4 linked regions of the Homo sapiens genome follow. Changing the gene in region 1 together with any one later gene gives a genetic interaction. Each region holds a gene or a part of one and is shown in the gene's direction. Other genes may lie near its edges.

What was found. A genetic interaction does not mean that the proteins touch.
Region 2: changes in MED24 (region 1) and MRPL42 together harm fitness more than expected from each alone (negative genetic interaction), as found in Homo sapiens cells (one large-scale study listed by BioGRID).
Region 3: changes in MED24 (region 1) and NDUFB2 together harm fitness more than expected from each alone (negative genetic interaction), as found in Homo sapiens cells (one large-scale study listed by BioGRID).
Region 4: changes in MED24 (region 1) and MICOS10-NBL1 together harm fitness more than expected from each alone (negative genetic interaction), as found in Homo sapiens cells (one large-scale study listed by BioGRID).

What each region holds. Positions count from the first base shown.
Region 1 is NC_000017.11:40,044,409-40,047,908, reverse strand, and holds part of MED24 (mediator of RNA polymerase II transcription subunit 24), read left to right. Parts: intron 1-3,500. UniProt on the Homo sapiens protein: Component of the Mediator complex, a coactivator involved in the regulated transcription of nearly all RNA polymerase II-dependent genes.
Region 2 is NC_000012.12:93,481,014-93,484,513, forward strand, and holds part of MRPL42 (large ribosomal subunit protein mL42 precursor), read left to right. Parts: intron 1-3,500.
Region 3 is NC_000007.14:140,703,208-140,706,707, forward strand, and holds the end of NDUFB2 (NADH dehydrogenase [ubiquinone] 1 beta subcomplex subunit 2, mitochondrial precursor), read left to right. Parts: intron 1-1,652; coding exon 1,653-1,727; 3' UTR 1,728-1,756; intron 1,757-3,355; 3' UTR 3,356-3,436; downstream 3,437-3,500. UniProt on the Homo sapiens protein: Accessory subunit of the mitochondrial membrane respiratory chain NADH dehydrogenase (Complex I), that is believed not to be involved in catalysis. Complex I functions in the transfer of electrons from NADH to the respiratory chain.
Region 4 is NC_000001.11:19,603,479-19,606,978, forward strand, and holds part of MICOS10-NBL1 (neuroblastoma suppressor of tumorigenicity 1 isoform a precursor), read left to right. Parts: intron 1-3,500. UniProt on the Homo sapiens protein: Possible candidate as a tumor suppressor gene of neuroblastoma. May play an important role in preventing cells from entering the final stage (G1/S) of the transformation process.

The sequences.
Region 1 (3,500 bases):
AATATACAAAAATTAGCCGGGCATGGTGGTGGGCGTCTGTAATCCCAGCTACTCAGGAGGCTGAAGCAGGAGAATTGCTTGAACCTGGGAGGCGGAGGTTGCAGTGAACCGAGATTGCGCCATTGTGCTCCAGCCTGGGCAACGAGCAAAACTTCGTCTCAGAACATACAAACATCTTAAGATCAATTCAGTCAGGGTTTTTTTTTTGTTGTTGTTTTTTGTTTTTTGTTTTTTTGTTTTTTTTTATGAGATGGAGTCTCGCTCTGTTGCCTGGGCTGGAGTGCAGTAGGGCAATCTCAGCTCACTGCAACCTCCGCCTCCCAGGTCCAAGCTATTCTCCTGCCTCAGCCTCCGGAGTAGCTGGGATTACAGGTGTCCTCCACCACGCCTGGCCAGTTTTTTTGTATTTTTAGTAGAGACGGGGTTTCACCATGTTGGTCAGGCTGGTCTCGAACTCCTGACCTCGTGATCCACCTGCCTTAGCCTCCCAAAGTGCTGGGATTACAGGCATGAGCCACCACGCCTGGCCTATTTAGTGAGTTTTAGCAATTGTATGTACCCATGTCACCAGCATCCAAAATAAGATACAGAGCATTTCTGTTCTCTCAGAAAGTTCCCTTTTACCGCTTTCTAGTCCACTCCCCTCTCCCACAATTGCCTTTATTTGGATTTCTTAGTAATGTAGTCAGATGGGATATAGTTCGTATACTGTCTTTTGTTTAACATAAATGTTTTTGAGATTTATTATTTATGTTGTATATGTTAATAGTACATTCTTTTTATTTATTTTTTTAAATTTGAAACAGGGTCTTGCTCTGTTACCCAGGCTGGAGTGTGCAATGGCAGGATCACAGCTTCCTGTAGCCTCATCCTTCTGGGCTCAAGTAATCCTCCTACCTCAGGTTCCCAAGGAGTTGGGACTACAGTCATGCACCACCATGCCTGGCTAATTTTTAAATTTTTTTGTAAAGATGGGATCTTCCTATGTTGCCCAGGCTGATAATTTTTACATTTTTGTAGGGACGGGGTCTCCCTTTGTTGCCCAGGCTGGTATCAAACTCCTGGGCTCAAGCGATCCTCCTGCCTTGGCCTCCCAAAGTGCTGTGATTACAGGTGTGATCCACCCATGCCTGGCCTCATTCTTCTTCTTCTTGTTTTTTTTTGAGACGGAGTCTCGCTCTGTCGCCCAGGCTGGAGTGCAGTGGCGGGATCTCGGCTCACTGCAAGCTCCGCCTCCCGGGTTCACGCCATTCTCCTGCCTCAGCCTCCCAAGTAGCTGGGACTACAGGCGCCCGCCACTACGCCCGGCTAATTTTTTGTATTTTTTAGTAGAGACGGGGTTTCACCGTTTTAGCCGGGATGGTCTCGATCTCCTGACCTCATGATCCGCCCGCCTCGGCCTCCCAAAGTGCTGGGATTACAGGCGTGAGCCACCGCGCCCGGCCTTTTCTTCTTATTTTTTAACTGCTGAATAGTATTTCTCAGTTGACACATATATATTTTTTTTTATTAAAAATTTTTTTAGGCTGGGCGCAGTGGATCATGCCTGTAATCCCAGGAACTTTGGGAGGCCGAGGCGGGCGGATCACGAGGTCAGGAGATCGAGACCATCCTGGCTAACATGGTGAAACCCCGTCTCTACTGAAAATACAAAAAATTAGCCGGGCGTGGTGGCGGGTGCCTATAGTCCCAGCTACTCGGGAGGCTGAGGCAGGAGAATGGCGTGAACCCGGGAGGCGGAGCTTGCAGTGAGCAGAGATCGCGCCACTGCGCTCCAGCCTGGGCAACAGTGAGACTCCGTCTCAAAAAAAAAAAAAAAAATTTTTTTTAGAGGCTGGGCGTGATGGCTCACGCCTGTAATCCCAGCACTTTGGGAGGCCGAGGCGGGTGGATCATGAGGTCAGGAGACCGAGACCATCCTGGCCAACATGGTGAAACCCCATCTCTACTAAAAATACAAAAAATTACCTGGGTGTGGTGGCATGCACGTGTAGTCCCAGCTACTCGGGAGGCTGAGGCAGGAGAATCACTTGAACCCAGGAGGCGGAGGTTGGAGTGAGCCAAGATCGAACCACTGTACTCCAGCCTGGTTGACAGAGCGAGACTCTGTCTCAAAAAAAACAAAATGTGTAGAGTCAGGATCCTTGCTTTGTTGCCCAGGCTGGAGTGCAGTGGCACAATAGTGGCTCACTGCAGCTTTGACCTCCTTGGCTCAAGCCATCCTCCTGCACCTGTAGCTTGGACTACAGGTGCGCACCAAAACACCCGGCCAATTTTTGCATTTTGTGTAGAGACACGGTTTCGCCATGTTGCTCAGGCTCATCTTGAACTCTTGAGCTCAATCTACCCACCTTGGCCTCCCAGAGTGTTGGGATTATAGGCGTGAGCCATGGAGCTCACCCCTAAACCACTGCTACATAATATTCCATATGTACTTTTTTTTTTTTTTTTGAGATGAAGTCTTGCTCTGTCGCCCAGGCTGGAGAGCAGTGGCACGATCTTGGCTCACTGCAACCTCCTCCTGTCCCCGCCGCTGGGTTCAAGTGATTCTCCTGCCTCAGCCTCCCAAGTAGCTGGGATTACAGGCATGTACCACCACACCTGGCCCATTTTTTTATTTTTAGTAGAGACAGGGTTTCATCATGTTGGCCAGGCTGGTCTCAAACTCCTGACCTCAAGTGATCTGCCCGCCTCGGCCTCCCAAAGTGCTGGGATCACAGGCGTGAGCCACTGTGCCTGGCCCAGCCCATATGTACTTTAATTTAGGTTGTTTGTAATTTTTTACTGTTATAATCAATGTTTCACTGAATATCCTTATACCTACCTGTCTGCATATCTGGAAGTATTTCTCTAGGGTGGATACCTCACAATGGAATATCTGATTTGAAGAATATACACATACTAAATTATAGTAGATCCTGCAAATTTCCCCCTGAAAATGATTGGATTAGGTTATACCCCATCCGTAATGTCTGACAGTATTTCCCCATACCTTTGCCAACGCTGGATATAATTTTTTTTTTTTTTTTTGAGATGGAGTCTCGCTGTGTCGCCCAGGCTGGAGTGCAGTGGTGCAATCTTGGCTCACTGCAAGCTGCACCTCCTGGATTCACGCCATTCTCCTGCCTCAGCCTCCCAAGTAGCTGGGACTACAGGTGCCCACGACCACGCCTGGCTAATTTTTGTATTTTTAGTAGAGATGCGTTTCATCTTGTTAGCCAGGATGGTCTCGATCTCCTGACCTCGTGATCCGCCCACCTCGGCCTCCCAAAGTGCTGAGATTATAGGCGTGAGCCACCGCGCCTGGCCAGAATCTTTTAAAACTTTTTCCAGAGGCAAATAATTATATCATATTATAATGTGCATTTTCTTTTCTTTCTTTTTTTTTTGAGATGGAGTCTCCCTCTGTCGCCCAGGCTGGAGTGTAGTGGCATAATCTTGGCTCACTGCAACCTCTGCCTCCCGGGTTCAAGCAATTCTCCTGCCTCAGCCTCCCGAGT
Region 2 (3,500 bases), on another chromosome or scaffold:
CACTATGTTGTGCCTTTGTCCATTGTTATTTTGTTAAATATCTTCGGTTTATTTGCTGTGTTTTAGCAATTATACTAAGAATGCCAGGTCATTTCATAGCATCCAGACTCTTATCCCCAAATGGCTCTTTATATCTCTGAATCTGACCCTCCTCAACTGTCAAAACTTTCCCACTGTACTTGTAGAACTTACTACCCTTGGCAAAATCTCTTACAATCTTAGCCTATTCCAGAATGTTGCCTTCACCTTTTGACTCTAATAGAAACCTGCCTGTACCCTGGAGACGTTACTTCCCCAGCAGTTCTTTTAAGTAGTTGCTGTTTTCTCTCGCATACTCTTTTACCACTGGGTCTAAAGATGGGGAAGGTATCTCTGTAGCTCTTCACTGTCAAATCTAGATCATTTCTCTTCCTTCCTAACAATTTCTAGCTTTGTAGCTTGTATCATTAAACTGCATCATTTACTATCTTTTTTTGTTGCTGTTATCTACCAACTGCCAGGTTATTTCTCCTCCTCCACCACTCTGCACTTCCTTGAATATTCTAAGCTTGCTGTCACACTTTCTCCAATACTGTTTTACCCTCATTCTTTTACTTCAATATCCATGTAGGTGATCTAATACCATGGTGTCTCACTTCTTGATCTCTCTCTACATCAGCTACCCACTTCCATGGGAGGATTCCCTATGATTCCCTAGAGATATTCTAATTACCAGTAATTGCTACTCCTCCTTCCCAGTCTAAATTTTAAGAAATCCAATAGTTAACTACCAGTCCCTCTTGGTCTCCCAGCTCCAAGAATTATTCATTCCCTCTTTGTAACCTACATCGATTGATCCAACCACTTTTTCACAGTCCCTCATGTATCTCACACATTCTCACTCCCTACTTAACCCAGCACAGACTGATATCATGGTTTATCATTATCATCATTCCTCTGTACACATGACCACCTCCCCTGCATCCTCTTTCTTTGTTGTGTTTCCTTTGTTTTGACAATTATCTTCTCTGCCACATCATCAATATTCATCTCTCTAGTTTAGGTAAGTAATCACTCCTACAAGTTTTCAAGTAATCACCCCACTGCCACCATACTGACCACAACTCCAGCTGTTCTTCAGCTGTATTAGGTGAGCTCTCCACTCAGAGCTTTTGTATTTCCTGCTTCCGTTGCCTGGAATGCTTTTACTTCATAGTTTACTCTCTTTCCTTAAGGTCTTTTTCCTTATTTGTTATCTTGTGTGGCCTTCCTTGGCTACTGCATTTAAAGTTGTACCTCTGCTCCTGCACTCCTTGTTGTCCTTTGATTTACTTTTCTCAACAGCATTTATCATTTCTAGCATACTGGATGTTTTCTGGCTATCTCCCATCACTAAAATGTAAGCTTGATGAGGACAGGGCCTTGTGTGTTTTTTTCCCCTGCTTGGTCTTCAGCACCTGGAATAACGCTTTGAACTTGGTAGGTGCACAATAAATATTTTTCTATTAAGTGAATGAAGTTGTTCCTTCCTCTTCATGCTTAAGGGTTTTTTGTTTTAGGGCTAAGAGACATTCACATCAGAAAGCATGGAAAGTTTTTGTTTGTCAAGCAATAAATTGTAGATTGGGCTGCAAAATAAGAAACACTCTTGAGAACATGTTACTATTAGTAGAATAATAGTAACATGGGCTCAAGCAATCCTCCCACTTTAGCCTCATGAGTAGCTTGGACTATAGGCACACACCACCATGCCCAGCTAATTTTTTAAATTTTTGTAGAGACAGGGTCTCACTATGTTGTCCAAACTGATCTTGAATTCCTGGACTCAAGCAGTCCTCTCACCTTGGCTTCCCAAAGTGCCGGGCTTACAAGCATGAGCCACTGTACCTTGCCCAATCTGGTTCTTTTTTTTTTTTTGAGACAGAGTCTCACTCTGTCAACCAGGCTAGAATGCAGTGGTGTGATCTTGTCTCATTGCAACCTCCATGCCTCCCCAGGTTCAAGCGATTCTTATGCCTCAGCCACCCAAATAGCTGGGATTACAGGCACTCGTGACCACGCCTGGCTAATTTTTGTATTTTCAGTGGAGAGGGGGTTTCGCCATGTTGGCCAGGCTGGTCTCTAACTCCTGGCCTCAAGTGATCTGCCTGCCTTGGCCTCCCAAAGTGCTGGGATTACCAGGCATGAGCCACCACACCTGGCCCCATTCTGGTTTTTGTGACAAGGATCTGGCTTGTCTCCCTTTCTACTTTTCACTGATATCTTTGTTACTTTGCATTTCTGTAGTACAGTCATGCATTGCTTACTGATGGGGATATGTTCTGAGAAATGCATTGTTAGGCAATTTCATTGTTACGTGAACATCATAGAGTGTCACTTACGCAAACCTAGATGGTGTAGCCTACTACACACCCAGACTTTATGGTATAGCCTATTGCTCCCAGGCTGCAAACGTATACAGCATATTACTGTAGTGAATACTATAGGCAATTGTAACACAATGGTCAATATTTATGTATCTAAACGTATTTAAACATAGAAAAGGCACAATAAAAATGTGCTATAAAAGATAAAATGTAATATACCTGTATAGGGTACTTAACCAAAAATGGAGCTTATAGGACTGGAAGTTGCCCTGGGTGAGTCAGTGAGTGTAAAGGCCTAGTACATTACTGTACACTGCTGTATACTTTATAAACAAACACTGTATGCTTAGGCTACACCAAATTTTTAAAAAAATATTTTTCTTTCTTTAATAATAAATTAACCTTAGGTTACTGTCACTTTTAAACTTAATAAACTTAAAAAAAATTTAATACTTTTTTACTCTTTTGTAATAACACTTAGCTTAAAATATCGTGTACAGCTATACAAAAATATTTTCTTTATATCCTTATTCTATAAGCTTTTTTGTATTAAAATTTTTGTTTGCACTTTTTAAACTTTTTTTGTGAGAACTAAGACACAAACACAGTCTAGGCCCACACAGGGTCAGGATGATCAATATTACTGTCTTCTACCTCCACATTTTGTCCCACTGGAAGGTCTTCAGGTACAGTAACATGCCTGGAGCTGTCATCTCCTATGATAACAGTGTCTTCTTCTGGAATACCTCCTGAGGGGCTTGCCTGAGGCTGTTTTACAATTGACTTTTTTTTAACAAGTAGGAGTACGCTCTAAAATAATGATAAAAAGTATATAGTATAGTAAATGCATAAACCAGTTGCCTAGTCATTTATTATTATTTTTATTATTTAATTATTTTGGTTGAGACGGGGTCTCACTACATGTTACTCTGGCTGGTTTTGAACTCCTGAGCTCAAGCCTCACAAAGTGCTGGAATTACAGCCATGAGCCACTGTAGCCTGCCGTTATTTATTATTATTATCAAGTATTATGTGCTATACATAATTGTATGTGCTATACTTTTATACAGCTGGCAGTGCAGTTGGTTTGTTTACATTGGCACCACCACAAACATGTAAGCAATGCATTGCACTATGGCGTTCTGCACCATCACT
Region 3 (3,500 bases), on another chromosome or scaffold:
TATATTTAGGTGGTCCGTTTCTTATGGTTTCTGTTAGGTTGCCATCTTAGGGAGACTAAAAGCTCATTTTTTTTTTTTTTTTTTTTGAGACACAGTTTCACTCTGTCACCAGGCAGGAGTGCAGTGGCACAATCTCGGCTCGCTGCAACCTCTGCATCCCGGGTTCAAGTGACTCTGGTGCCTCAGTCCCTTGAGTAGCTGGGACTACAGGTGTGCACCCCCACGCCGGCTAATTTTTTTTGTTGTTAGTAGAGACGGGGTTTCACCATGTTGGTCAGGCTGCTCTCAAACTCCTGACCTCAAGTGATCCACCTGACTCAGCCTCCCAGAGTGCTGGGATCACAGGCGTGAGCCACCGCGCCTGGCCAGAAATGAATTCTTTTACCTTCTGAACTAGCGGTTCATTGGTAGGTTAGGTTTCACACTTAAATTCCTTTAAATGATGAATGTCTTCTGGTCTGTCCAGAGGCCCAGGGCAGCCAGGTTTGGGTGGGATGGATGTGAGTTAATTTGTCTTGAGAAGGGAAGTTAGTTTTAGTGATTTTCTATTTTATTTATTTATTTTTGAGATGGAGTCTCACTCTGTCACCCAGGCTGGAGTGCAGTGGTGCGATCTTGGCTCACTGCAAGCTCCGCCTCCTGGGTTCACGCCATTCTCTTGCCTCAGCCTCCCAAGTAGCTGGGACTGCAGGTGCCCGCCACCACTCCCGGCTAATTTTTTATATTTTTAGTAGAGACGGGGTTTCACCGTGTTAGCCAGGATGGTCTCGATCTCCTGACCTCATGATCCACCTGCCTTGGCCTCCCAAAGTGCTGGGATTACAGGCGTGAGCCACTGCGCCCGGCCAGTTTTAGTGATTTTCTAACATATCATTAGCCTCAACTGAGGTTTTACCACATTTGCAGACCGTTCTTTGGGAAATTACGTCTTTAAGACATTGAAATCTGTGCTTGTTTATCCAGGATACTTTGAGTTGTAGTAAATTTGGGTTTGTTTCCAGGATAGGAAAAAAATCTTAAGCAGTATGTAAGTTTTAGAAGCATCAGGTTGCTTCATATCCCATTTCTCTTAGAACTTCTCTGTGCCGTTGTCCTTCAGTAAGGAGCTGCCTGGGTGTCTGTGAACTGTCCACACATTTACTATTTGAGGTGCCCCTGCCTCACTGTAGGTCAGCTGTCCGGAGTATGTACAGTATGTATAGCTGTTAGGCCTGAGATGATGATGATGCAGCCAGATAAGCCCTTAGATCAGGATTGGAGATGAGGAAGTCCACCTGAGGCTTCTCCATTTCACAGCAGTAATGTTAGGAGAGTTGGAAACATATTTTGCCAGGACTTTGCCAGGATGTCAGGAACCTTTGAAACCTATTGCCTCCACTTCCCCCTACCCTCCCTCTATCACAGACACGTACCATTGGCTTAGGCTGGTACCTCCAAATGGGGAGGCTTTTAAAATTCAGACCAGAGCCCATATAATGAACAAACTAAAGAACAGGTGGGCCATCGAATAATTAAAGTAGAATTTGTTCCTGTGGTCAGGGGCTGAGCCATATTGTTTTTTTTTTTTTCTTTCCAAGATTTATTTAACAATTTAATTAGTTGCACAGAATGTAAATTCTTGACTTTTCTTTCTTTTAAATGGTTGTCACCAGGGTCACTTTCCGTATCCTGATCCTTCCCAGTGGACAGATGAAGAATTAGGTATCCCTCCTGATGATGAAGACTGAAGGTGTAGACTCAGCCTCACTCTGTACAAGTGGGTGTGCTCCAAATTTCTTTATGTCATATTTACCTTTTTTCATAAACATTAGTTTTTACTTTGTGCCTATGATGGACTTGAAAAAACTGCATATTCTAACAGCATGAAGTTGAGTTAACCATGTCCTGTATCTGCTTTTTTTTTTTTTTTTGAGACAGAGTCTTGCTCTGTCGCCCAGACTGGAGTGCAGTGGCGTGATCTGGGCTCACTGCAACCTCTGCCTTCCAGGTTCAAGTGATTCTCCTTCCTCAGCCTCCTGAGTAGCTGGGATTATAGGCACATGCTACCACACTTGGCTAATTTTTGTATTTTTAGTAGAGGCAGAGTTTTGCCACGTTGGCCAGGCTGGTCTCGAACTTCTGACCTCAAGTGATCTGCCCACCTCAGACTCCCAAAGTGCTAGGATTACAGGTGTGAGCCACCACGCCTGGCCATGTATCTGATTTCTGCCTTAAGTTTTCACATTTGCTTTGGTCTCTTCTTCCTTTTCATTGTATGTTTTATTTTATTTACATTTTTTATTTTGTAGAGACAGGGTGTCACTATGTTGCCCAGGCTGGTCTTGAACTCCTGGGCTCAAATGATTCTCCTGCCTCTGCCTCCCAAAGTGCTGGGATTACAGGCATGTGCCACCACACCTGGCCCATTGTATAATAAAAAAAAATTTTTTTCCTAAGTTAGGTTATAATTTTAGGGTTTCATTTATCCATCCACTGATCAAAGATATATTAAGACCAATTCTGTGCCAAGCACAGGCCTACAGTGGTGAACAGGACAGATGGAGCTTACAGTACGTAGCTGCAAAACTACAGTGTCCTGCTCTCAACATTTAAATAGATCCAGCATATGGGAGTATTACTATATAGAACTATATGAAAACTAACTCTTTAAACAGTAAAGGGTTATGGCTTTTTCATTTTCCAGGTCAGGAAGTCAAGAATTTTTCTTCTTTAAAAAGGGAGGTACTAAGAAGGTTCCCTTTCCTCATAAACCCCTAGGGGTTAATATGTTTTTATTTAACATGCTTTTATTTTATATTTTATTTTATTTTATTTTATTTTAGTTTGTTATGTTATGTTATGTTATGTTATGTTTTATGTTATGTTATGTTATGTTATGTTATGTTATGTTATGTTATGTTATTTGAGACAGGGTCTCATTCTGTCATCCAGACTGGAGTGCAGCGTGATCATGGCTCACTGTAACCCCAACCTCCTGAGCTCAAGTGATTCTCCCGCCTCAGCCTTCTCAGTAGCTGGGACTACTACTCTTGGCTAATTTTTGTATATTTTGTAGAGATGAGGTTTTGCCATGTTGCCCAGGCTGATCTCAAATTCTTGGACTCAAGTGATCCACCTCTTGGCTTCCCAAAGTGTTGGGATTACAGGTGTGAGCCAGTGTACCTGGCCAACAAATTTGTTTTAATGACTGGACTGTAAACCCTTGAGAGAGGAAGGGTGATTTTGCTTCTCTTGTCTACAAGGCTGTCACATGATCAGTGCTCAATAAATACTTGAATAATTGAATAAATGAATTATGGATTTGAATTAGTGAATATAAAAGTACTTAAAGCTTTCTACTTTTGTTTTCCTGCAGGAGCCAGGTGAGAATTTCAAGGATTATCGACTTCATATTGCACATTAAAGTTACAAATTAAAGTGGCTTGGTCAAGAATGAGAATGGAGTTGTGGATCTTTTTTTTGGGGGGGGGTGGGGTGGTGGAGAGGTGGTGGGAGGGGGG
Region 4 (3,500 bases), on another chromosome or scaffold:
TCCTCAGACTATGGATTTGCCAGAGGACGCTTTGAGGAAAATCTGATTCTGGCACTTCCTGGATTCATACGGAGGTCCTGGGAATCCCTAGTGTGACTTGGATAGCTTTAAAATTGGCTGTGTCCCTTTTCTCTTTGTTTTGCTCCAATGTGAGACCAGAGTAAGGAATATCTAGTCTTACTAATCCATGTATTGGTTTAGAATTCTAGTTTATTCTAATAGAAGTCAGGTTGTATGGCAACTCTGTATTTTAGCATTTGAAGAAATTCATTGAATGGTTAGCTGAAGAGTGACATGGTTGAATTTTTGATTTCAGAAAAATCATTGATGAGAATGAATCAGAGGGCTGGCTGGGATGAAGGCAGGGAGGAGATGTCATGGTGGAGGGAGAGGTCCCAAAGCTGGAGAGTTTCCTGGAAAAGACTGTCCTGGCAAGCCAGGTGTGTCAAGCACAACAGTGATTTCCGTTAGTAGCAAGAAAAAAGGCAAGCCATGGACATTTACAAGGAGCCCCTAGAATGTATTCAATTCAGTGAACTGTAGTGGCATACACAGTCATTTTGTTTTTCTTTTCCTCATTTTTTTCATTCAAAATAAATGTACCAGTAAATACCTCCCAGCCTCAGTTTTCTTATCTATAAAATGATAGTACTTGCCCCAGAGGGTAGTTGCAAGTGAGGATAAAATGAGATAATCTCTAGAGCAGTTAGGACGTTGCCTGTACTTACTAAATATTATTAACTGGAGGCTGAGTGTGGTGGCTCATGCCTATAGTCCCAACACTTTGGGAGGCTGAGGTGGGTGGATCGCTTGAGGCCAGGAGTTTGAGACCAGCCTGGCCAACAATGGTGAAACCCAGTCTCTACTAGACATACAAAAAATTAGCCAGGTGTGGTGGTACGCACCTGTAGTCCCAGCTACTCGAGAAGCTGAGGCATGAGAATCGCTGGAACCCGGGAGTAGCAAGTTGCAGTGAGCTAAGATGCAGCCACTGCACTCCAGCCTGGGCAACAGAGTGAGACTTGGTCTCAAATAAATAAATAAAAACTGGAGGCTGTCGCTGAAGAGTAGAGGTAAAAGAGTTAAAATGATTAACACATTTACCCTGATCTTGGCTATTGTGGGTCGTAGGTGGGTCTTATTGTGGGTCGTGGCTATTGTAGGTCTGATAATCAATATTCATGTTTATATATGTAATAGTAATCATTAATGTGTACTTCTTGAAACAATTTAGTACCAGGTATTGTGGTAAGCCTTGGCAGGGGGTGGCACACAGGTGAATAGGCACTGGCCCTACCCTCGAGGGGCTTACTGCCTTGAGGAATGTGAAAAGGATGAGGGACATTTGACCCCCATTTTGGAAAATATGCAGATATTTAATAGGTGGACCAGGTGGGGGAGTGTGTTTCACTCCTTGAAGGTGTCCCAAAGGAGAGGGATACTTTGGTTCCTTCTGGGAATGATGAGAATGACCATCACTTATTGAGCACTTAACCGCATGCCAGGCACGGTGCTGAGCATGTTATATTTTACATCATTATCTCATATCCTTGTAAGATATTTCTCCATTTTTACAATGGAAGCTCATGGTGGCAGAATCCCTCCTTTAGGATCACAGGCTACAGCTGCAAGGGTAGGAAGGTGAACCCCATTCTTGTAGCTATCACATGTTAATGCAGGAGATTTTATCCTTTGGGGTTAAAGGATTTATGTGGGGAGGGACAAAAGATGAGGCAGGAAAGGTGGAAGGGTGTAGGAAGTTGTGGAGATTTTTTAAACTACTTTGTTGAGATATATTTCATGGCATACATTTTCCTATTTAAAGTGTACAATTTTAGTTTTTTCACCAAATTGTGCAATTATCACAATCTAATTTTAGAATATTTTTAGCTTCCCCCAAAAGAAACACTGGATGCAGCTGCTCCTATTCCCAAACTCTCACCCCAACCTTAGCCCCAGGCAACCACCAATTTACTTTTTGTCTCTGTGGAGTCTCCTATGCTGGACATTTTACATAAAGAGTTATATAATATGTAGTCTTTTGTATCGGCTTCTTTGACTTAGGTAGTGTTTTCAGTATTCATCCATGCTGTTGCATTTATCTGTTCATCATTCTTTTTTGTTACCAAATAATGTTGTGTGGTGTATTTGTACTACATCTTGTTTATCCATTTGTCAGTTGGTGGACATTTAGTTTGTTTACGCTTTTAAATTTTATGAATAATGCTGCTGTGATCAAGTGTACACATTTTTGTTTTGTTTTGAGATGGGGTCTGTTTTGCCCAGGCTGGTCTCAAATTCCTGGGCTCAAGTGATCCTCCTGCCTCAGCCTCCTGAGTAGCTTGGATTACAGGTGCATGCCATGGTGCTCAGCCCCCCAGTTTTTATGTGGACATGTTTTCATCTCTCTTGGATATATACCTAGGAGTGGAATTGCTTGGTTGTGTGGCAATTCTATGTTTAGCATTCGAAGAAATTCATTGAATGGTAAGCTGAAAAGTGACGTGGTTGAATTTCTGATTTCAGAAAGATCACTGATGTGATGAGAATGAATAACTCTCTGGAGTGCTAGGATGTGGGGGCAGGGAGCTAGCTTAGTATATTATTGCAAAATCTTGCCAAAGATGAGCTGATCAAATGAGAGGAAGCATGAACTAAGAGGGGAGCAGCAGGAGTGGAAAAGAGAGATATAATGATGCTAGTACAGAGTTTATATTTACAGAACTTGAAATGCAGGCTCAGGAGTGGGAGGAGTCAGGTGGTGCCAAGCCTACATAAATGAGCATGGTGTTGCTTTTGACAAATAGGAGAGGCAGAGAGGGGAATAACATTTTGTAGTTTCTTAATTTCTAGTATGTCTTGAGATAGGTCTCTAATTATATGCAGCTCAGTTAACAGATGAAAGTTATTGGTTTATCATGCATTCATCTTTATGAAAAGAAAGGATTCGGCCTTGCTTCTTCCTTGTTACGAAAGTATGGCCAGGGCTGGGCACGGTGGCTCACACCTGTAATCCCAGCGCTTTGGGAGGCTGAGGAGGGTGGGTCACCTGAGGTCAGGAGTTTGAGACCAGCCTGGCCAATATGGTGAAACCCCATCTCTACTAAAAATATAAAAATTGGCTGAGTGTGGTGGCGCATGCCTGTAATCCCAGCTACTCAGGAGGCTGAGGCAGGAGAATCACTTGAACCTGGGAAGGTGAGGTTGCAGTGAGCCAAGATCAGGCCATTGCACTCCAACCTGGGCGACAGAACAAGAAGGCTCTGTCTCCAAAAAAAAAAAGAAAGAAAAAAAGTAGGACAGTAAAAGACTTAGAAGCTGACTTGCCTTAGAATTAAAGTTAACCAGCAGATTTTGTGTATTCATTCAATAATCAAGTCTAGTTAAATTGTTTGAAGCCATTTTAATGTTTAAAAAAATACTAAAAGAGGCCATTGAATAGTCATGGAAAAAGAAAGCAAATTATTGTTTTTCTTTAAGTATCAGTTCATCTGATAGAT